Linked DNA regions of Homo sapiens: region 1 is linked to region 2. The links come from fine-mapping of genetic effects on gene expression. A gene starts in region 2. The other region holds a variant in brackets. All regions are shown on one strand. Distances are from middle to middle. Region 1 overlaps CLIC4 (chloride intracellular channel 4). Region 2 holds the start of IFNLR1 (interferon lambda receptor 1).

Region 1 (5,524 bases), 620 kb before region 2:
ACCTACAGTCCACAAATAACCAGTCTTTCCTGACCTATCAGACACATCCCAAATCTGTTTCTACCACATATTCTACAGCTTAGACAAATCCCCACCTTTCTTAGTATGGCTGATTGGCCTAGCTGGAAGCCAATTCTTATATCTGTGTAGCATTAATTATAAGAAACATAGAAGAGAGTCCTAGTCATTCCAAATTAATGCTGCGAGAAAGATCTCTACTGACAAATAACACAAGCTTCAAAGAAGTGACAATATTTTCATACGTATTTTCCTTGATACTCACTTGGGAGGGCATAAGACTTCTTCAAGAAATTCCTCAATCTTATTTACATCCGTTTTGACTTCACTGTTGAAAGTTATAAATGGTGGGTGGGTCCCGGGAGCCAAGTTCTGCAGGTCTGCTGGCTTCCTGTTGGGCAAAATATTGGTCAAAATCAGATCATTTTTTACTCTTAAACAACAATAATACTTTAAATTCTCAAAGTTGGCCAGGCACGGTGGCTTGCGTCTGTAGTCGTAGCACTACAGGAGGCTGAGGTGGGACACTGCTTAGCCCAGGAGTTTGAGACCCAGCCTGGGCAACATGGTAAGATCCTGTCTCCACAAAACATAAAAAATTAGCCAGGCATGGTGGTGCGTGTCTATAGTACCAGCTACCAGGGAGGCTGAGGTGGAAGGATCACTTGAGCCTGGGAAGTTGAGGCTGGAGTGAGCCATGATCGCACCACTGCACTCCAGCCTGGGCGACAGAGAGACCCTGTCTCAAAAAGAAAATAAATAAATTGTCCGGGCATGGTGGCTCATGTCTGTAATCCCAGCCCTTTGGGAGGCCGAGGCGGGTGGATCACCTGAGGTCAGGAGTTTGAGACCAGCTTGGCCAGCATGGTGAAACCCCATCTCTGCTAAAAATATAAAAATTAGCTGGGCATGGTGGTGCGCACCTGTAGTTCCAGCTACTTGGGAGGCTGAGGAAGGAGGATCACTTGAACCCGGGAGGCGGAGGTTGCAGTGAGCTGAGAATGTACCACTGCACTCCAGCCTAGGTGACAGAGTAAAACCCTGTCAGAAAAGAAAAAGAAAAAGAGAAAAAGAAAAAGAAAAGAGATCAAAGTGGTTCTAAAATTTAAAGTATATAAAACTGAATAAGAAATGGTATTTTTCAGCCGGGCACGGTGGCTCACGGCTGTAATCCCAGCACTTTGGGAGGCCAAGGCAGGAGGATCACGAGGTCAGAAGTTTGAGACCAGCCTGACCAACATGGTGAAACCCCATCTCTACTAAAAATACAAAAGTTAATTGGGCGTGGTGGCATGTGCCTGTAATCCCAGCTACTCAGGAGGCTGAGGCAGGAGAATCGCTTGAATCCCGGAAGCAGAGGCTGCAGTCAGCAGAGATCTCACCACAGCACTCCAGCCTGGGCGACAGAGCAAGACTCCATCTTAAAAAAAAAAAAAAAGAAAGAAAGAAAGAAAGAAAGGTATTTTTCAACCAGGTGTGGTGGCTCACGCCTCTAATCCCAGCATTTTGGGAGGCCAAGGTGGGCAGATCATGAGGTCAAGAGATTGAGACCCTCCTGGCCAACATGGTGAAACTCCGTCTCTGCTAAAAATATAAAAATTAGCTGGGCATGGTGGCATGCACCTGTAGTTCCAGCTACTTGGGAGGCTGAGGAAGGAGAACCACTTGAACCCGGGAGGCGGAGGTTACAGTGAGCCAAGATCGCACCACTGCACTCCAGCCTGGTGACAGAGCAATACTCTGTCTCAAAAAAAAGAAAGAAATAGTACTTTTCCACTAGATATAATAGCTGTAATAGTATTCTAATAAGAAGCAAGCCTCCACAAAATACATAATTTATGGTAAGAAAATGCTTTGATTTTTTTTTTAACCAAAATACAAAATCCATCATTCTCATTCCAAATTAACTAAGTCACTCATTAGAGATAGTGATAGAATGAGGAGGGAAAAAAGATTTTGGAGAGTTAGTGTCTGGTTTCAACTCTGGCCCCAACTAATTGTGTAAAGATGGGTAAGTCATGACTTCCCTAGGCCTTTTTTTTTCTTTTTGGCAAAATAAAAGAGAAAAGCAGCTGAATCCTGCAGTCATCTTCAACTTCAAAAGATTCCAAATTCTGGTGCTATTTCTTTCCCATTATTCTAGAAGTCCAGGCTTGACAAGGAAAAGGATCACCAGATTAGACTATCTAATATCAAAATTACTTCAATACATAAAAGATGGCATAATGAAGGGTAAAAAGCAACAAAGAATGGACAAAGTACTGAGTGAGAAAAGCTTAAAATCTACATTACCTAAGGATTTTGTCCAAATTCATTCCAAAGGTCATCAAAAAAATCAAATAGGTATGGGTCAAAAGAAATTGATGAGAGACAGATAAAACAAGTGAACACACAGAAAAATGTAAAATAGCACAACTATAAAGGGAATTTAAAAGTAAACAATAAGATGTCTTCCTCCTGTTGATTAGGAAAAATTGAAAACACCACAAAACACTGATAAAGATGGTGAAACTGTTATGCTGACAACTACTAACAGCAAGAAGTGTTTGTACTATCTTGTTAAAAAAGCAAAATGGCTCACCCAAACCCACCAATGAATTTTAGGATCAAAAAATGAGATGACCAGATATGGTGTGTTTCCTATGGCACCATGAAGTATTCTTACCAAAGAAGTTGACCCTGAATCTAATCAAGCCTCTGGGGCAGGCTGGGTGCAGTGGCTCATACCTGTAACATTAGCACTTTGAGAGGCCAAGGCAGGAGGATTGCTTGAGTCCAGGAGTTCAAGCGAGACCAGCCTGGGCAACATAGTGAGATCCCATCTCTATAAAAAA[A/T]TTTTTTTTAATTAGCTGGGTGTGGTGGCATGTGCCTGTAGTCCCAGCTACTTGGGAGGCTGAGATGGGAGGATTGGTTGAGCCCAGGCGGTCGAGGCTGCAGTGAACAGTGATCATATCACTGCACTTCAGCCTGGGCAACAGAGTGAGACCCTGTCTCAAAACAACAACAACAACAAACCAAAACAAAGCAGCCTCTGGGGCAGCTGTTTCTCAAATTGTAAGCCAGGAGACCCTTTCACCAGGTGATCCATTAGGTCAGAACTATTCTTATAATACTAAGGCATCATTTGCCTTTTTCACTCTCATTCTCCTCTCGTGCACATATAGTAAAATTTTCCAAATTTACTTGGCTACTTGGTACAAGATATCACAAGGTAATGAATGCAGAAGCAGACACGAGAAACCTCTTCTAAGATGTGCAAAAATGTAAAAGAATGCCACTCTTCTCACTATTTTTTGTTTTGGGAAATATAGTTGTTTTACATTAAAAATGTTTTATGGTAATAAGTAGTGGGTTCATTATTGTTCTATATTTAATGAATTAGTAAATGATTTTTTTTTTTTTTCCTGAGACAGAGTCTCACTCTGTCGCCCAGGCTGAAGTGCAGTGGTGCGATCTCGGCTCACTACAAGCTCCATCTCCCAAGTTCACGCCATTCTCCTGCCTCAGCCTCCCAAGTAGCTGGGACTACAGGCGCACACCAAGCCCAGCTAATTTTTGATGTATTTTTTAGTAGAGACAGGGTTTCACCATGTTAGTCAGGATGGTCTCCTGACCTCATGATCCGCCCACCTCGGCCTCCCAAAGTGCTGGGATTACAGGTGTGAGCCACCGTACCCGGCCATAAATAAACATTTTTAAAATTTCTCAGGATTTTTTTTTTTTGAGACCAGTCACCAAAGCAGGAGTGCAGTGTCACAATCATGGTTCCCTGCAGCCTTGATTTCCTAGGCTCAAGCAATTCTCCTACCTCAGCCTCCCAAGCAGCTGGGACCAGAGGCACACTCCATCAAGCCCAGCTAATTTTTAAAAAATTTTTTGTAGAGATGAGGATCTCACCATATTGCCTAGGCTAATTTCTCAACTTTAATTTCTAATATAGTAAAATAGGTAGATATAACCCACATAACTGAAAGCTGTTTGAGGCCTTCAATAATTTAAGAGTACAAAGGGGTCCTGAGATTATTTACAGGAAATGCAGGGAGGGGGAAAATGAGAGGACAAAGTTAAATGCTACCACAAGGAAGCAACTGCTAAATTCTGGATTTGGGACAATCTACCTTTCAGCTGAATGGTATTTTTACCAGACACAGGTGGGGGACTGTTATAGATTAAGAAAAACTTAAGAGATATAACAATCAAACATAAAAAGTAGAAATTACTTGGATACTGATTTGAACAAACCAACCAAAAATAAAAAGATATTTTAGAGATAACCAGGGAAATCCCAAATTGTATACTAGGAACTTCAGGAGATCAGAGCATTGTGGTTAGGGAAGAAAATGTCCACATTGTTTGAAGACATACACTGAATTAAGTAGGGATGAAACGACATGATGTCTAGCATTTACTTTAAAACATTTCAGCAAAGAAAATCAGAAAAAAGGGGCAAAGCAAATGTGGCAAGATCTTGATAACTGAATTGGGTTTACGGAGAAGTTTATTCTATTCTTATGCATGTTTGAAAACTTTCATAATTATAAAAGCAAACATAAAAATGTGTACTTCAAGAAAAGTAATACAACAACATATAGTTTCAAAGAATGTTTCTGCCTCCTATTATAGCCCAGAGCTGTTTATCTTGTTATTAAGTTAGCCTGCCTGCCTTCCTTCTTCCTTCCTTCCTGACCATAAATGCACAGAATTTGAATAAAATAAAGAATATTGGCTGGGCATGGTGGCTCATGCTTGTAATCCCAGCACTTTGTGAGGCCGAAGCGGGTGGATCACCTGAGGTCAGGAGTTTGAGACCAACCTGGGCAACATGATGAAACCCCATCTCTACTAAAAATATAAAAATTAGCTGGGTGTAGTAGTGCATGCCTATAGTCCCAGCTACTCGGGAGGCTGAGGCAGAATTGCTGGAAGGCGGAGGTTACAGTGAGCTGAGATTGCACCACTGCACTTCAGCCTGGGCGACAGAGTGAGACTCTGTCTCCAAAAATAGTATTTTTAAATATATCATGAAAGTGAAATACTTCGTCATCAGAATTTTCAAGATAGAGGGGAATCAAAAATCTATAACCAGTTTATAATCTATCAATTTCCCTTGGTCTTATTCATATTCTCTCTCTGGCTCCATCTTTCAATTTAGGTTAGAAAGCCTCAGGTTTCTATGACTACATTCCAACCAAAGAAACAAAGATTTATTTAATTATCTCATTAATTTAAAATTTTTAACTCAAAGTCCAAGTTCTAGAGCCTATCTTGCTTCCTAAACAAAGAAAAATAAGACATATTTCCTATCAACTTCTGTAAGAACCTAACCTCCAAAAGAGGACTTTTAAAAGTCAAAACCTGATTTGATTTTCAACTCTGATGCTTTCACTGAACATTCTTTAGTCTGACAAGCTCAAGTTTTTCACAAAATGAAATAAGTCAGCCCTCCTTATTCATGGGTTCAGCATCTGTGGATTCAACCAACTGAGGATCAAAAATATTTTTTAAA
Region 2 (5,000 bases):
TTGTTGTGAAGATTAAATACTGTATGTAAACTGCAGTGCCACTATATAACAAAGACTCAATAAAGATTCGTGCAGTCAGCTGTTTGGGATAAAGAGATATCAATAGAGATATATTCATTTTATTCCAGAATGGATGGATTGTATTTGAGATACCTGAAAGAAATTGAAGCAGTGTATTTAGGACCTAAGTAGAAGCAAGGTCGTGGTAACTGGCTGAGATTTTCTGACCGGCATCTATAGATGACATTTTTTTTAAGGTTTTGAAAGATCCAACTTGGCCAAGCTCATAGTCACAAAATGTCTCTTGAAGGATCAAGGCATCTGAACACACAATTTTCTAACTCGAAGCTATGCGTGGGCGGGGAGGTGGGGGAAGAGGAACAAGAGAACAAACATGTGACAAACAAATTGTCAAAAAAGAGCAAGTGCCAGTTTCAGATGCATAGCACAGGAGCCCATGGGTGGAGCAGGTGGCAAATGAAGATATTTCTGTACCTGCTGTTGAACCGCTCCAAGCACAGTGGGATTCCGGGTCTAAAAGAGTTGCAGTTGCTGGGTGGAAATGAAAGTCAACATTTCAGGGCCGGGTGCATGGCTCATGCCTATAATCCCAGCACTTTGGAAGGCCGAGGTGGGCAGATCACTTGAGGCCAGGAGTTCGAGATTAGCCTGGCCAACATGGCGAAACCCCGTCTTTACTAAAAATACACAAATTAGCTGGGCATGGTGGCTTACGCCTGTAGTCCCAGCTACTTGGCAGGCTGCGGCATGAGAATCGCTTGAACCAGTAGGTAGAGGTTGCAGTGAACCATGATCACGCTACTGCACTCCAGCCTGGGTGACAGAGTGAGACTCTTGTCAAAAAAAAAGAAAGCAAGAAAATAAGAAAGCAAGAAAGAAGGAAAGAGAGAGAAAAAAGAAGGAAGGAAGGAAGGAAGGAAGGAAGGAAGGAAGGAAAGAAAGAAAGAAAGAAAGAAAGAAAGAAAGAAAGAAAGAAAGAAAGAGAGAGAAAGGAAGGAAGGAAGGAGAAAAGAAAGTCAACAGTCAACATTTCAGAGATCCCAAGATACCAACACTGACCGTGCCTGCTGCTCTTCCATCCTCCTCCACCCTGCGCCTTTGAGGTGGAATTGCGTCCTCTGTGAGCAGGGCTTTGTTAAGAGATCCTAATTAAGGCCAGGCACAGTGGCTCATGCCTGTAATCCCAGCACTTTGGGAGGCTGAGGTCACCTGAGGTCAGGAGTTCAAGACCAGCCTGCCCAACATGGTGAAACCCCATCTCTACAAAAATTAGCTGAGCATGATGGCAGGTGCCTGTAATCCCAACTACTTGGGAGGCTGAAGTGAGAAAATAGCTTGAACCCAGGAGGCGGGGTTGCAGTGAGCCAAGATCACACTATTGCATTCCAGCCTGGGCGACAGAGCTTTTGTCTAAAAAAAAAAAAAGAAAAAAAATCCTGATTAAGCAGAAGCCTTGATGCTAGTCCCAGAAGCATCCTGAAATTTCCAAAAGAAATTTCCCCCGCGGTTAAACTCAGAGCAACTTTTGGACCCACCAAGCTCTGTGAAAATCATTTTCTCTTCCAAAAACTGATGGGACCAAAGCTGATCCCAGTTTCAAATAATTATCAAAAAATTGGAAACGAAATATGATCAGAAAAGAAGAAAGTTGAAAAAGAAAATCCTCATCACCCAAAGACAACAACCATTAATATTTTGGTAATTATTATTCCAAATATCTTTCTATGCATACAGACAGACTCACACACACACACACACACACACACACACACTTTTTTTTTTTTTTTTGAAACTGAGTTTCACTCTGTCGCCCAGGCTGGAGTGCAGTGGCGCGATCTCGGCTCACTGCAACCTCCGCCTCCTGGGTTCAAGCGATTCTCCTGCCTCAGCCTCCCTGATAGCTGGGATTACAGGTGAATGCCACCACGCCCGGCTGATTTTCTGTATTTTTAGTAGAGACGGGGTTTCACCATGTTGGCCAGGCTTGTCTCCAACTCCTGACCTCAGGCGATCCACCCGCCTCACCCTCCCAAAGTGCTGGGATTACAGGCGTGAGCCACCGCGCCCGGCTACACACACACTTTTTTAATGGGCCTATGTTTTAGCACTCGCTTTTCTGTTTCTCAGTGTGTTGCAAACACCTCGGTGTCGATACACACCATTCGGCAACGTCCTCCTAAAGGGCCGCATAATATTGCGCGTCGTGGCGTGTGCCTTACTGGGAAGCTACTGCTGTCCAGGTGAACACCACAGCCTTCGGGGTCAGAAAGACAGCTTTCCCCAGAACAAGCACCTGAAGCTCTGGGGCCTGCCGCTCCCCGGGAGAGAAGTACGTGGAGAAGGGCAGCACGGATCCGCCGGGATCCCCGGGGGCATTAAAGGGAATCGCGTGTGTAAGGCGCGGAGCTCAGCATCCGGCTCAGAAACGCGCTCGGATCCCGCCAATGGCATTGAGGCCGCGTAGCCAAACCGGCCTTGAACTCTCCCTAATCCTGCCAAAATGGCCCGTCCTGGAGCACTGGACTGGCCGTGGGTTATTGATCATCAGCCGGTTTCTTCCCCTCCCCTGCCCTTCCCCCGTGCACGGATTTACTGATTTTTTTTTCCGGGAATTGAGTAAAACAAAACTAAGTGCAGATGAAGCAGAGGTACGGGCGAGTTTCGAGCGCGGGGACCGGCGCGCTCCCCCCCCCCCCTCCCCCCGCGGCGGGGCTGTCCCCAGGGACCTTCTCAGTGAATCCTAGGCGGCAGGGACGGGCCCGCGGCTCTGCGGGCCATTGGCTGCCGACTGCGTCACCTGCCCGCGGTGGGCTAGGAGACGGGAGGCGGGAGGCGGGAGGCGGGGACCTGGGCCCGGGCGGGGACGCCGCGGCAGGAAGGCCATGGCGGGGCCCGAGCGCTGGGGCCCCCTGCTCCTGTGCCTGCTGCAGGCCGCTCCAGGTAAGGGCGCGGGGCCGCGGGAGGGAGGGGGAAGAGGGCTCCCCGGGCCGGGCCGCGCCTACCCTCGGACCCGGAGCTCCTGGGACAGGCACGGGGTCCGCAGCCACCCGAGCCGGGTGCGAATCGGCCCTGCCTACGCGCCCCCAGTTTGCTTCTTCCCAGGACTGAACAGAACCGGGTCTTTGATATTCCTCTCCCGCAGGAAACGAATCCAGTTTCCTAATGCTTCCAGCTTCAGGAGAACTGGAGAAAAAAGACAGCGGCAGTTTGATACTGCATATTTTTTAATAAAGTGCTTTTTAATGTTTCCTAAAGAAAGCACTGATCCCTGCGTGAAAACCACACTTGACCCTAAAGTGTGGACAGCAGGGAAAGTGGGACCGATTGATGTCCCTTCCCGTTCCTGCCAGGCCTCTGGTGGGACGGAGCTCTGGTCGCCTGTGCCCTGCTTTCTAACAAGACGGCTTTCTTTTGGTGGTGGTTGTTGTTTTGTTGTTGTTTTGTTGTTGTTGTTGTTGTTGTTGTTTTCCCACCTCTACTGATGAGTAAGGTGTCAGGTACAAAATTCCTCGCCGTAGGACCCAACCACCAAACCTCACCGCCCACGACTCCAACCGAAGCAGGGAAGAGAAGGTCCAGAAATCGCCCCCAGGATATTTTCCTAGTCTTGGACTCACAGTTTAAAGAGCTGTAAAGGTCCCTGGGCATAATCCAATCATCATAAAAGCCTATATTTATTCAGCAACTTCTTTGTGCCAGGCACCGCATTATTCTGGAAGCCTCACGACCCAGCCATCCTCGGAGGTAGATATTATTTTTACTTTTCCGATGGGAAAACTGAGGCTCAGAGCAATTCAGGGAATTCCTCAAGAAGGATGGCAGAGGTGAGGCACACAGAAGAGAGAAGAGGGGCTAAAGCAAGCCTGGCTAGCTTTTGCCTCCAGGGTAGGCACGTGGGACAGGCTGTCCATCCACTGGGTCACTAGGCCAGCCAGGGATGCTCCAGCCCCCAGTGCCCACAGCAGCGTTCTCTGTGGCTGATGAGGGACCGTGTACCTGTGTGTGGAGGGAGGGTGGGGTCTTCTGTTCCCCTTTCACTGTCAAACCCAGACCTTCTTGTACTTTCACCTGATAAGTATTTAATATACACAACACTAACTATGGTGTGATGATTTAGGAGTAAGTACAGCCAGATCTAAGTTCAAATACTGGCTCCCACACAAACTGACTGTGTAGCCTCAGGCAAGTTAGTTAGCATCTGTCTCTGAGCCTAGCGCCCTTTCCATGGAAGCAGAATGAATGACACCTACCCCATAGGGTGGTCTGTCCCAAGGGTGATTGAGGTTTTACATGTAAAGAGCCAAACTAGTGCCTGGCATCCTTTGAAGGCTTCATAGAGGAAAGTTGCTCTAACTGCTGTTTTTCTCATGTGACCTAGCTCGAATCTGGGGACTGTCCTGCCCATAGGATACCTTACAAGTGGCTTGCAGACAGCCTGGTCTCCTGCTGGTCACCCGTTAGGAAGTCCAGAAGCTGGGAGTAGTAATAGCACTAGCCTCGTGGTGATACAGTCCCAGCTAGAGGACACAGGATGAGGTGGAAGCAGGCACCCACTTTTGGGTCTAGAAGGTGATGGGTAGGCAGCCGAGGCTGGGGACAGCCATCCACAGAACTGGACCCTCCCTCCCTGATGCCATTTTGCAACCCGTATGGATTTCCATCATGGCACATGGGACACTTCAGGACCCTGAATTCTCCATGGGACCATGAGCTCCTATAGGGCAGGAATGAAGTTGTGTTCTTCTTTGAAACCCCTGGCACACCGTGGTCAACAGATCTTGTTTGACTCGTAGTGGTCAATAGATGGAATAGTTGGAATCATAAAGCTCAATAGACCCCATGAGAACCTAGAAGACAAAGTACAGTCAAGAGCTCGGACTTTGGAGTTGGCTAGGCCTGGACTGAATCTGATTCTACAACTTAATAGCTGAGAGGGCCTTGGTTTTCCCATCTGTAACGATTATAATTATTATAATGAA

The links.
Region 1: its variant is fine-mapped to the expression of IFNLR1 in testis (GTEx, PIP above 0.99).

The regions. Positions count from the first base shown.
Region 1 is chr1:24,808,979-24,814,502 of GRCh38, reverse strand. It overlaps CLIC4 (chloride intracellular channel 4), which reads right to left. Exons shown (of 6, transcript NM_013943.3): 3 at 284-409. Among named protein-coding and RNA genes, the nearest start is that of CLIC4, 66 kb to the right of the region's middle. The variant A/T (reference allele first, on the strand shown) is at 2,853.
Region 2 is chr1:24,185,152-24,190,151 of GRCh38, reverse strand. It overlaps IFNLR1 (interferon lambda receptor 1), which reads left to right and starts at 2,863. Exons shown (of 7, transcript NM_170743.4): 1 at 2,863-2,961. The coding sequence starts at 2,904. RefSeq lists a silencer at 2,601-3,090.